Regions from separate parts of the Homo sapiens genome. Here region 1 is linked to region 2. Evidence: fine-mapped expression QTL. A gene starts in region 2. The other region holds a variant in brackets. All regions are shown on one strand. Distances are from middle to middle. Region 1 has its middle 21 kb from the start of NUDT14. Region 2 holds the start of PACS2 (phosphofurin acidic cluster sorting protein 2).

Region 1 (4,370 bases), 110 kb before region 2:
ACCTGTCCCCCAGTGGCCATGTGACCACCACACCCCTCCCCTTGGTGGGCTGGGAAATACTGTCTCTGAATAGCAACCTCCCCGGGAGCCAGGCCGGGACACACCAGCCCAAGAGCGTGCCCAGGGCCCTCCAAGGCCACCAGCAGGCTGCTGAGCCCTGATTTTCACCTCCCAGGATCACATCATCCCAGGCTCTTCCAGCCCCAGGCCCTCCACACATTACAGGCCCCTAAATTTGGCCCCACCTGAACCTACTCCTTTCCGCTGTCCCCCTCCCCTAATAACAAATCCCTGCTGAGACCTTCACCAGGGAGCCAGTCTCATCTCCTCCTCCACCCACCTCCCGGCCCCACCCAGGGACACCCCCATCCTCTGGGCCCTTCTCCATCCCCTCCCCAGAGTGCTCCAAAATGGAACTAAGCATGCGCTCTGCTCACAGCCCCACAGCCCACCCTCCAGCAGCTGGCAAGACCACTTCTCCTCTGCCGGCCGGCCGCTGCGCCTCACGCCCTGATTTCCCTGCACAAACTTGTGCCTATGGATCTTGTTGGGGAGGGGGTGGCTCGAAGCGCATCTCCCCTACAAGGACAGGGGCGCTGGCCTGTGGGCAGCACTTCCCGGTTCCCTGCTTCATCCTCGCCGACTCTGCGCACGCACTTGGCTGTCAGGCTTTCTCCACGCTTGCTGAGTGAATCCATGAACAAATGCATGAGAAACACGCATTTTCCAGAACCCCACGTGCAGCTGGAGGGAATGCTCCGGTCAGGGATTTGTGGGAGGGGAAGTCCGAAGGGGTGAGGCCTGGAGGGTGGGCTGTGTGGGGATGGCAGCCACTCCCCATCCTCCGGGCGCCGCGGGGGCAGAGCACAGAGACAGAAGCTCGAACATCGTCTCCATGCTGGGTACATGTCTCCCAGCATGTGTGTTCCTGGACCCCAGGCAGGCGAGGCTGTGGCCTGCAGGTGCTGACCCTAGCTCAGCCTCAGCCCACAGTGCCGCCTCCACCTGCCAGGTTCTGTGGCACCTGCAGTCCGGCCCTGCACTGCCGCCCAGGACCCCCACAGCGGCCAACTCAGCTCAATGGGTGGGTGGTCAAGGCTGGAGCAGAGCCATGGGGGCCAGCCCCCGAGGTGTGCTGGCGGCCGGGTTAGGCTGGGGTCATTTTCCCAGGCTCCACCAAGGCGGGTACCTGGCAGACAACGTTATTGTCCACAGGGAGGCAGCAATGACTCAGTCGGGCTGGTGCAGAGGCCCCCGGCCGCAAAGGAAAGGAGGGTCCCCACATCGTCTGGCAGAGTGGGCACTGCCTCCCCTGGGCAGGTGTGACTGGGCCTTCTGCCCGGCCTCCTATCCCAATCTCAGTCCAGCTAGGGCCTCCTGGGCCTCTGTGGTCCCAGCTTTGCTGTTAAGTGGGTACATGTAACGCTCCCTCCCTGCCTGTCAGCGGGCCTGAGCTGCGGGCACTTCCCCAATCGAGGCCCCCCGGACTGCTCAGGAGTGCCCCGACCCCAGCTGTGGCTCCTCCCTGTCCAGGGTGAGCTGGGGTGTCAGTCCTGGGGGCATCAGTGATGGAACAGAGTCGGGTTGAGGTCAGGGTTGGGTCCCCCAGCCTAGCGCCCCTGACTTCACAGTTCCAGCCGTGCTCATTGTGTGGGGACAATGGCTTCCTGAGCCAGGTTCCTCTCCGGGCAGGAAAACCACACAGAACCTCCTCTTTGCCTCCGCCCACGGCCCCTTTGAAGGGCCTGGGCCAGCCTCAGGCACTGACTGCAGCCTTGGGGCCTGCCCCCGGCGCCACCTCTTACCAGCCTAGCCCAGGCCCCGGTCTCCCCAGGGACCTGCCAGTCCTCCAGACACGTAGTACAGGCTGCAGGGACAGTTACTGACGGCCCAGGAAGCCGCCGGCCAGAACCATGCAGGCAGTGGGCTCAACACAGCATCAGAGCTTGGAAGGACGCAGAGTCCTGGGCCCGGACTCCGTACAGGCTGGAGACGGAGGCAACCGACCCCCCTCGGTGCCTCCCAAGAGGCCAGGGTACATCTGCAGGGTGGCTGAGCCCTGTGGGGGCGGACAGCCAAGGGACCCTGGAGGGTGTTGGCCCTGGAGCAGGCGCACCTAGGCTGGAGAGGGCAGAGGGTCCTGGCACTCAAGGCCTGAGAAGGGCCATCTGTCCTCACACAAGACAGGGGACTCGAAGCGGGGCTGCCTCAGGGCGTGTGCATGCCCTGCTTCCCCAGATGGTCCTGGGATGCCCCTGGAGATGCAGAAATTGGGGACCAGTCCTGCAGGGGAAGGCAGGATTGAGGGCTTTCTAGAGTCACAGGTGGCAGGTGGGTCTGGCAGAGCTCTGCACTCTGAGGCCTCCAGCCGTCTGTTCACCTTGCTGGTGAAGGTCTTAGACCCCAGGCAGAGGAGGCTGGGATGTTCAGGCCTGGGGTGTGTCCAGGGCCCCACTAAGGTCTCTGGTGCCAGGACTGGGACAGGGACTGGGATGCTGCAGGGGCAGGTAATCTCCTGAAGCCCCCAAGGCTCAGGGTTACTTTTCCTCCGAGCCTGTCTCCACCGTCTTGGCCAAGGGGTCCTCAGACCCTGAAAGGGAAGGACCGAGGAGGAAGGCGAGAAGGCCTTGCTGTGTGGGGTTGGGGGCCACCAGCCAGGCAGGGCTCCAAGATTCAACAAAGACCTGATACAACAATTAAGAACATAAAGG[C/A]ATCTTCGTGGCCTCCGGATTCACCAGATGGGGTGCAAGGTGGGCTTCATCACCCGGGAAAAGGCCAAGTGTCCCAAGAACATAAATGTCCGCTTCCAGATGGTGCCGCCCGTGGCCGCCAGGGGGCGGGCCAGCCGAGTCTCCCGGACACACTGGGCAGGCCGGTCCCGCAGGAGCCTGGATCCCGGGTGCCCATCCCTCAGCGGGTCCACGTCAGCCTGCTGTGTCTCGCTACCACCTCCAAGCTCCATGGGAGAACCACAGGGCGGCCCCCACCCACCATCACCCAGCTGTGGGGGCTGGGAAGGGCGTGCTCCACACTCCTTTGCCCGACTCCCTCAAACCAGGGGAGCGGGTGGCAGTCCCTGGTGGCAGACTCAGACTCTAGACAGTGACAAAAGAGCCCCCATTTCTGGCCCCAGGCCCAGCAGCTCCTCATGCAGCAGCCCCTGCCCCACCTGGAACAGGACCAGAGAGCAGCAGCAGGCCTAGAAGAGGGCTTCTGTCAGTGTCTTGGAGGACACTGGGGGACAGACGGTGGAAAGAGGGGCTGGGAGGTGGAGGGAGGGGATGGGGGGGAGGTGAAGGGAGGGGTGGGGGATGGGGAGCAGGAGGCAGAGGGAGGGGTGGGGGCATCCTCAGGGGCTGCCCGGCATCTGCCCTCGCAGAACCTCTCATTCAGTGAGAGACCCTGCAGGTGTCCCTTGCTGCCCCAGTAATGCTCAGCCCAGGCCCAGGATTCCTGACCCACCCTGGCTGGGCTGACCAGGGGCCTGTTTGGCAGAGGGGCAGACGTGGGCAACAGAAGGCACCTGGGGGTTGGGGGAGCCTGGGACTGTCTGCTGTCCCCTATTCCAGGGGCCTGGGCAGTGGGGGGGTCACGCTGGAGTGCTCACCCAGCCTGGCGCTGCCTCACTCCCCGAACTGCCAGGAAGCTCACCTCACTCCCCACTCTGTGGCCGAGGGATGGAGCAGGTGCCAGGTCACACAGCACTGGTGTGGGCTGGGTGACCATCAGGTGCTGGAGTTACCAGACACAAGCCCCCAGACCATCCCTCCCCGCTGCATCTGTGGGGAGTGGCTGCAGGGGCAGGCCTGGTGACTCCTGGGCCCTGTCACAGTGCCCCTGTGAGGAGAAACTACCATGAGCATCCCCAGCCAGGTGCGGTGGCTCACACCTGCAGTTCCAGCTACTCTGGGGGCCGAGGCAGGAGGATCGCTGGAGCCCAGGGATTTAAGGCCAGCCTGGGCAACATAGCATGACTCAATCTCAAAAAGAAATTTAAAAATTAGAAAGATCACCCACAGGCCCACAAGTGTCCGAGGGCTCAGCCACCATGTGGGTGTGGACTGCGGCCAGTTGTCTGCCCCAACCGGGCCCGACACCCTGAGCTGGTCCAGAGGCTCCCGGCCCTCAGCATCTGTGCATCCAGGTGTGGGTCTGGGTACACACGCTCAAGCCCGTGCACATGGTGGTGGGATGGGTGCGAGCAGACGTGTGTGCGGATGAATGTGTGTACGTGTACACGCGTACTGGGTGTGCATGAATAGCGGCCATGTAGGAGGGTGTGGTGTGCATGGAAGGGCACTCACAGGTGTGCACAGGCACACGTACGTAAGGGCATTATGCATTTCTCTGTGGATGGTCACATGCCTGCA
Region 2 (4,370 bases):
AGACCCACCATACGGGTTCTTCGGGCCACTCTGGTACAGACTGTGTGGGTCATATCCCGACCCCTGGCAGCTGCATAACCTCACAGGCCGCCATCTCCTCTTTTGTCACTTGGGATGGGACAGAACTGTCACGTCCCTTAAGGGCTCACAACGGTGCCTGGCACAGAGGAGGGGCACCGCTCAATGGTGGCAGCTGGTGCCAAGCCCTGCTGTGCACGGCTTAGTCACCCCGCATCTCCTCACTTGACCCCCAGTTGTAGTCCCTGCCTGGGTTAGACGCTGGCATACACAGGCACCATGTGTCAGGCGGCCCATCCGTCTGACTGCAACTGCACGCTCGCCAGGTCCAGCAGCGCCGTACGCTCAGTTCTGGGGTCAATGGGTGCCTGTCTCCTGCCCTCCCATCACAGACAGCCTGTCCTCCTGGGGTATGGCTACCCCCTCTCTGGACATAGTCACTTCTCCCCCTACCCTGTCTCAAAGGTATGAGATCCACCGGCCCTCTGCCCGCCGAGCAGCTGGCCAAGGTCAGACAGACCCTCATGGCTCTCAGTGTACCACCTTAGAGGAGCCAGGGGCGCGTGGGAAACACAGAGTCCCTTGTTCTCTCCGAAGTGGGACCCTGACTTTAAGCAGTCGCAGCTGTTTGCAGTTCTAGATACAGGAGTTACAGCTGGAGGCTGAGCTCTCTCAACGGAGGAAGCAGCGGCATGAGGGCCTTTGCAGAAGGAGCTGACGGGGCACTGGGGTGGCAAGCCCCGTGGGCCAGGAAAGAAACCAGCTCCAGGTCAATTTGCTCGGGCTGGATTTGTTTCAGTAAAACTACTTGTAGACAAGACACAGGGCGAAGAGAAAAGCAACTGTAAACTAACTGTGAAACAAGGAAACAGAAGAGAGGCCAGAAAACCGTTTCCTAAATCTCGGCTTGGCATCTGGTGCTGGACCACAGCCGCTGCCAAACAGATGGGGGAAGCACCCTCCCTGAGCCCCAGAGCCTACACGTCGGGCCCCAGCGGCTCTAGCCATTGCCTCCTCTTTGCTTGGGTCCCCAAGTTCACTGTTAACCCCAGGGCCAGGAGCCAGCCTTGGCCCCAGACATTTGTTCTCCATTGTCCTGAGCACAACGCTGAAAAGCGGCGCTGAATAAGGATGCTGGGACGCAAAGAGGGCGCCCGGGGTCATCTGGAGCCCTGGAGGCTAAGCTCGGCAGCCTGGCGCCCCGAGTGGCTTCGAGTCCCCGCGACCGCCGCCAGGCCCGGCCACCTCCTTGCCACCTCCCTGCGTCCCGGGGAACCCACGCAGGGGGGCGCGAGGGAGGGGCTCGGGGACGGGCGGGGCCCGCACAGCCGGGCCAACCCAGCGGGGGTCGGCAGGAGACAAGGGGCGGCGAGGGCAGGGGGGCGGGGAGACTCGGGGCATGGCGGGGTGGAGGCGGGAAAGTGTCGAGGCCGGGGAATCCGCGCGTGGGGAGGTGGGCATCGCCAGGGCGACGATGAGCTTTCCTTAGGGGGCGGCGCCTGAAGCTGGCCGGGACCCGGTGGACCCCCACGACTCTCCCGGCCCTTGCCCGCGGCTCCCGGGGGGCGGGGCGGGGCGCCCCGGGCGGGGTCTGTGCGCAGGCGCGTGAGTGCGCGCTCTCGCGCACCGGCGGGCGGGGACGCCCCGTGAGGCGCCGCCGGAGGAAGCGCGCGCGCACCTCACTTCCGGCGCGCGCTGCGCCGGCGGCGATTGGACCCGAGGCGGCGAGCTGGCGCCCCGCCCAGCCAATCGGCGGCGCCGGCGCGGGTCGGAGGGCGCCGGGCGCGCGCGGGGCGGCCGGGGGCGCGCGGGGCGCGGGCGGGGCGCCGGGCGGGGCGGGGCGGAGCGGCCGCAGCTCGTCGCCGCCCGCGGGCCTGTCCGACGCCGGGGCCCGGCCCGTCCCCTCCGCCGCCCGGCAGCCATGTGACCGCGCCGCCGCCCTCCGCGCGCCCGGCCCGCCCGCCGCGCGTCCGCGGCCCGGCCGCAGCCCCAGGCCGCCGAGGGAGCGGCGGGGCCGGCGCCATGGCCGAGCGAGGCCGCCTCGGCCTCCCCGGCGCGCCCGGCGCGCTCAACACGCCCGTGCCCATGAACCTGTTCGCCACCTGGGAGGTGGACGGCTCCAGCCCCAGCTGCGTGCCCAGGTACGCGCCGCCCGCCGCGCTTTGTTCCCGCCGGGCACCTGCTGGGGGTGTCCTGGCCGCGGCCTCTGCGCGCCCCATCCCCGGCCCGGGTCCCCCAGCGGAGCCCAGGTCGCCCCCCGCGCCCCCGCCCGCCGGTTCGACGCGTGCAGCCGCCGCCCCCCCGCAGCTCCGGCAAGCGCGGCCCCAGCCCCCCAGGTCCCGAGCACCGGGGGCCGCGCTCAGCTTCCGAGGACCCGGTGCTGCTCAGACCCGGCGGGACCTTGGGGCTCCCGGGCGGCGCTCACCTGGCTCGCCGCAACCGCACCTGCACACCTGCCTCAATGCGGTGCCGGCCGGGGTGACGAGGGTGCTTCCTCTCTCGGGTACCACACGCTTCCTTTCGCGTTCGGCGACACTGTCAGACCTCGGCCTGGGAGCGACCCCCGGCGCACGGGGCGCGCAGGACTCGGTTGTATCCTCCGTCCAGCGCGCGGTGGAGATGCCCTGTCCTGCGGGGCGGGGTCGTCCTCGCGGGTACCTGGTTGGCGCTGTCTCTCATTTAGAGGCGTCGCCAAGCCAGTACTGCTATTTGCGCCTCCCAGTTGATCTTGCCATTGCGGAAGACTGGCTGTTCTGCACTTGGTAGGGGGGCGCCCGGTCGCCCAGCGGTAACGATTGGACAGGGTTTACCCTCCGGCCATAGCCCAGCCTTCCTTGGACTTGCAGCTTCCCTGAGTCTCCTGCTCAGTTTGAAACTTTTGTAATTTCTTCGTGACTTGGTAGTTCCTGCTCAGGAAGCTCCCAGGCTAAGGAGGAGAGAGACACGCTCTCCGGAAAAGTTCTGGTTCTAGAATAGACAGCAGGCGAGAAGAGGAGGCGGTTGGGGGTAGTGAGAGTTCTCCCTGGGGAGATGGGAGGGTGAGCGGACCTTCCAGGCACTGGAAGTGGCCAGTATGCCTGGAGGGGACCCCACGTGGCATTGAGTTGTTCCACCCCTAGTCAGCTGCAGGTGGGCCTCTCCGTGCTTTCCTGTGGCTCCCACAGCCTGCATCTCTGAGCGTGGTGTTGGAGTTGCAGAGCCGCTGGACAGTGGGGCTTGCCCTCCTGGAGCGCAGGGTTGGGACCTCGGGGCTTTGGTTTTGCTGAGTGGACAGGAAGGATGCCCACCCGGCACGACTCTTGCACCTGGCGGGGCCTCCCGAAGGACCCAGTGTCCATATGAGACCTAAGGGTCAGCATTTGCCCAAGGTCTGGGGCCGAGCACTGCAGATGTGCCTGCTTGCCTCTCTTCTGGGAAGTCTCTGGGGCCTCAAAGCCAAAGCCAGGAGCATCTCCCCAGGCCTGGCTGCTTCTCCATTCCAGGTCTTGGCGATTGCCCCAATGTCAGGTCCCACAGCCCCACAGCCCTTCTCCTGTCTGCCCCTCTGAGTCACTGCCTCACCCACAGCCCCAGAACCTTCATGCGGGCTGTTGGCGCTCCCCTGCTCCAGCACTGCAGCACATAGCCTGCCCTTGCTGAACCTCTGCAGCAGCTTCCTGGGGCCCTCCGAATGAGCAGCAAAGTCTTTAACCCAAGGGAGGTGGGGGCGTGTGGCAGGAGGGGCCGGGGGCCTTATCAGCCCCCCTGTGGAGCTGTGCTCTATTCTCCAGGGGTCTAGAAAGCCCACTCTGGTGTCTGTGGGGAGGGTATGGGTAGGGCGGGTTTCGAGAAGCCTGGTTAGGACAGGCGGGGGTAGATGGGGGCACCTGGGCTGGGTAGCACTAAGTGCTGGGGGGGGTCCCGAGCTCTGGCCTGGACAGGGTTGGGAGGAAGGGTAGGCAGGAGGACAGGATTTGTTCTGTTGGTGTGGAGTTAATGGGCGGAGGAGTTAATGGGCGGAGGGGCGAGTGGCGCAGCTGACCAGGTGGGCAGATGCAGTTTGTTCGTAGGACATGCTCAGCCTCATAATGAGCTCCTGCCCTTACCTGTCCTGGAACAGGGCCCCTCATAGGCGGGCTTGCCCCTAGCTTTGCTTTGTGCTTGTGCCGCCTGTCCGTGCATCCTCGGACAGTCTGCTACTTAGTTTTGCTTTGTTCCTCCTGAGTTCTTCTGTACTCCTCACTTTTGCCCAGCCATGAAGCTTCTGGGCTGCGTGTGTGCTGATGCCTTTCGGCGTGTTCACTGCTGCGTACTATTCACTGGCGTGACAGTACCTCGGCTTTGCTTCTGTCAAGGGACCTTGGCTTGTTTCC

What was found. PIP is the estimated chance that this variant, and not a neighbour inherited with it, causes the effect.
Region 1: its variant is fine-mapped to the expression of PACS2 in whole blood (TOPMed, PIP 0.96).

Annotation. Positions count from the first base shown.
Region 1 is chr14:105,200,326-105,204,695 of GRCh38, forward strand. No RefSeq gene overlaps it. Among named protein-coding and RNA genes, the nearest start is that of NUDT14, 21 kb to the left of the region's middle. The variant C/A (reference allele first, on the strand shown) is at 2,712.
Region 2 is chr14:105,312,879-105,317,248 of GRCh38, forward strand. PACS2 (phosphofurin acidic cluster sorting protein 2) reads left to right here and starts at 1,870. Exons shown (of 25, transcript NM_001100913.3): 1 at 1,870-2,159. The coding sequence starts at 2,041. It also overlaps a transcript of BRF1 not described here. RefSeq lists silencers at 1,232-1,321, 1,422-1,951, 2,092-2,181, 2,412-2,491 and an enhancer at 2,236-2,887.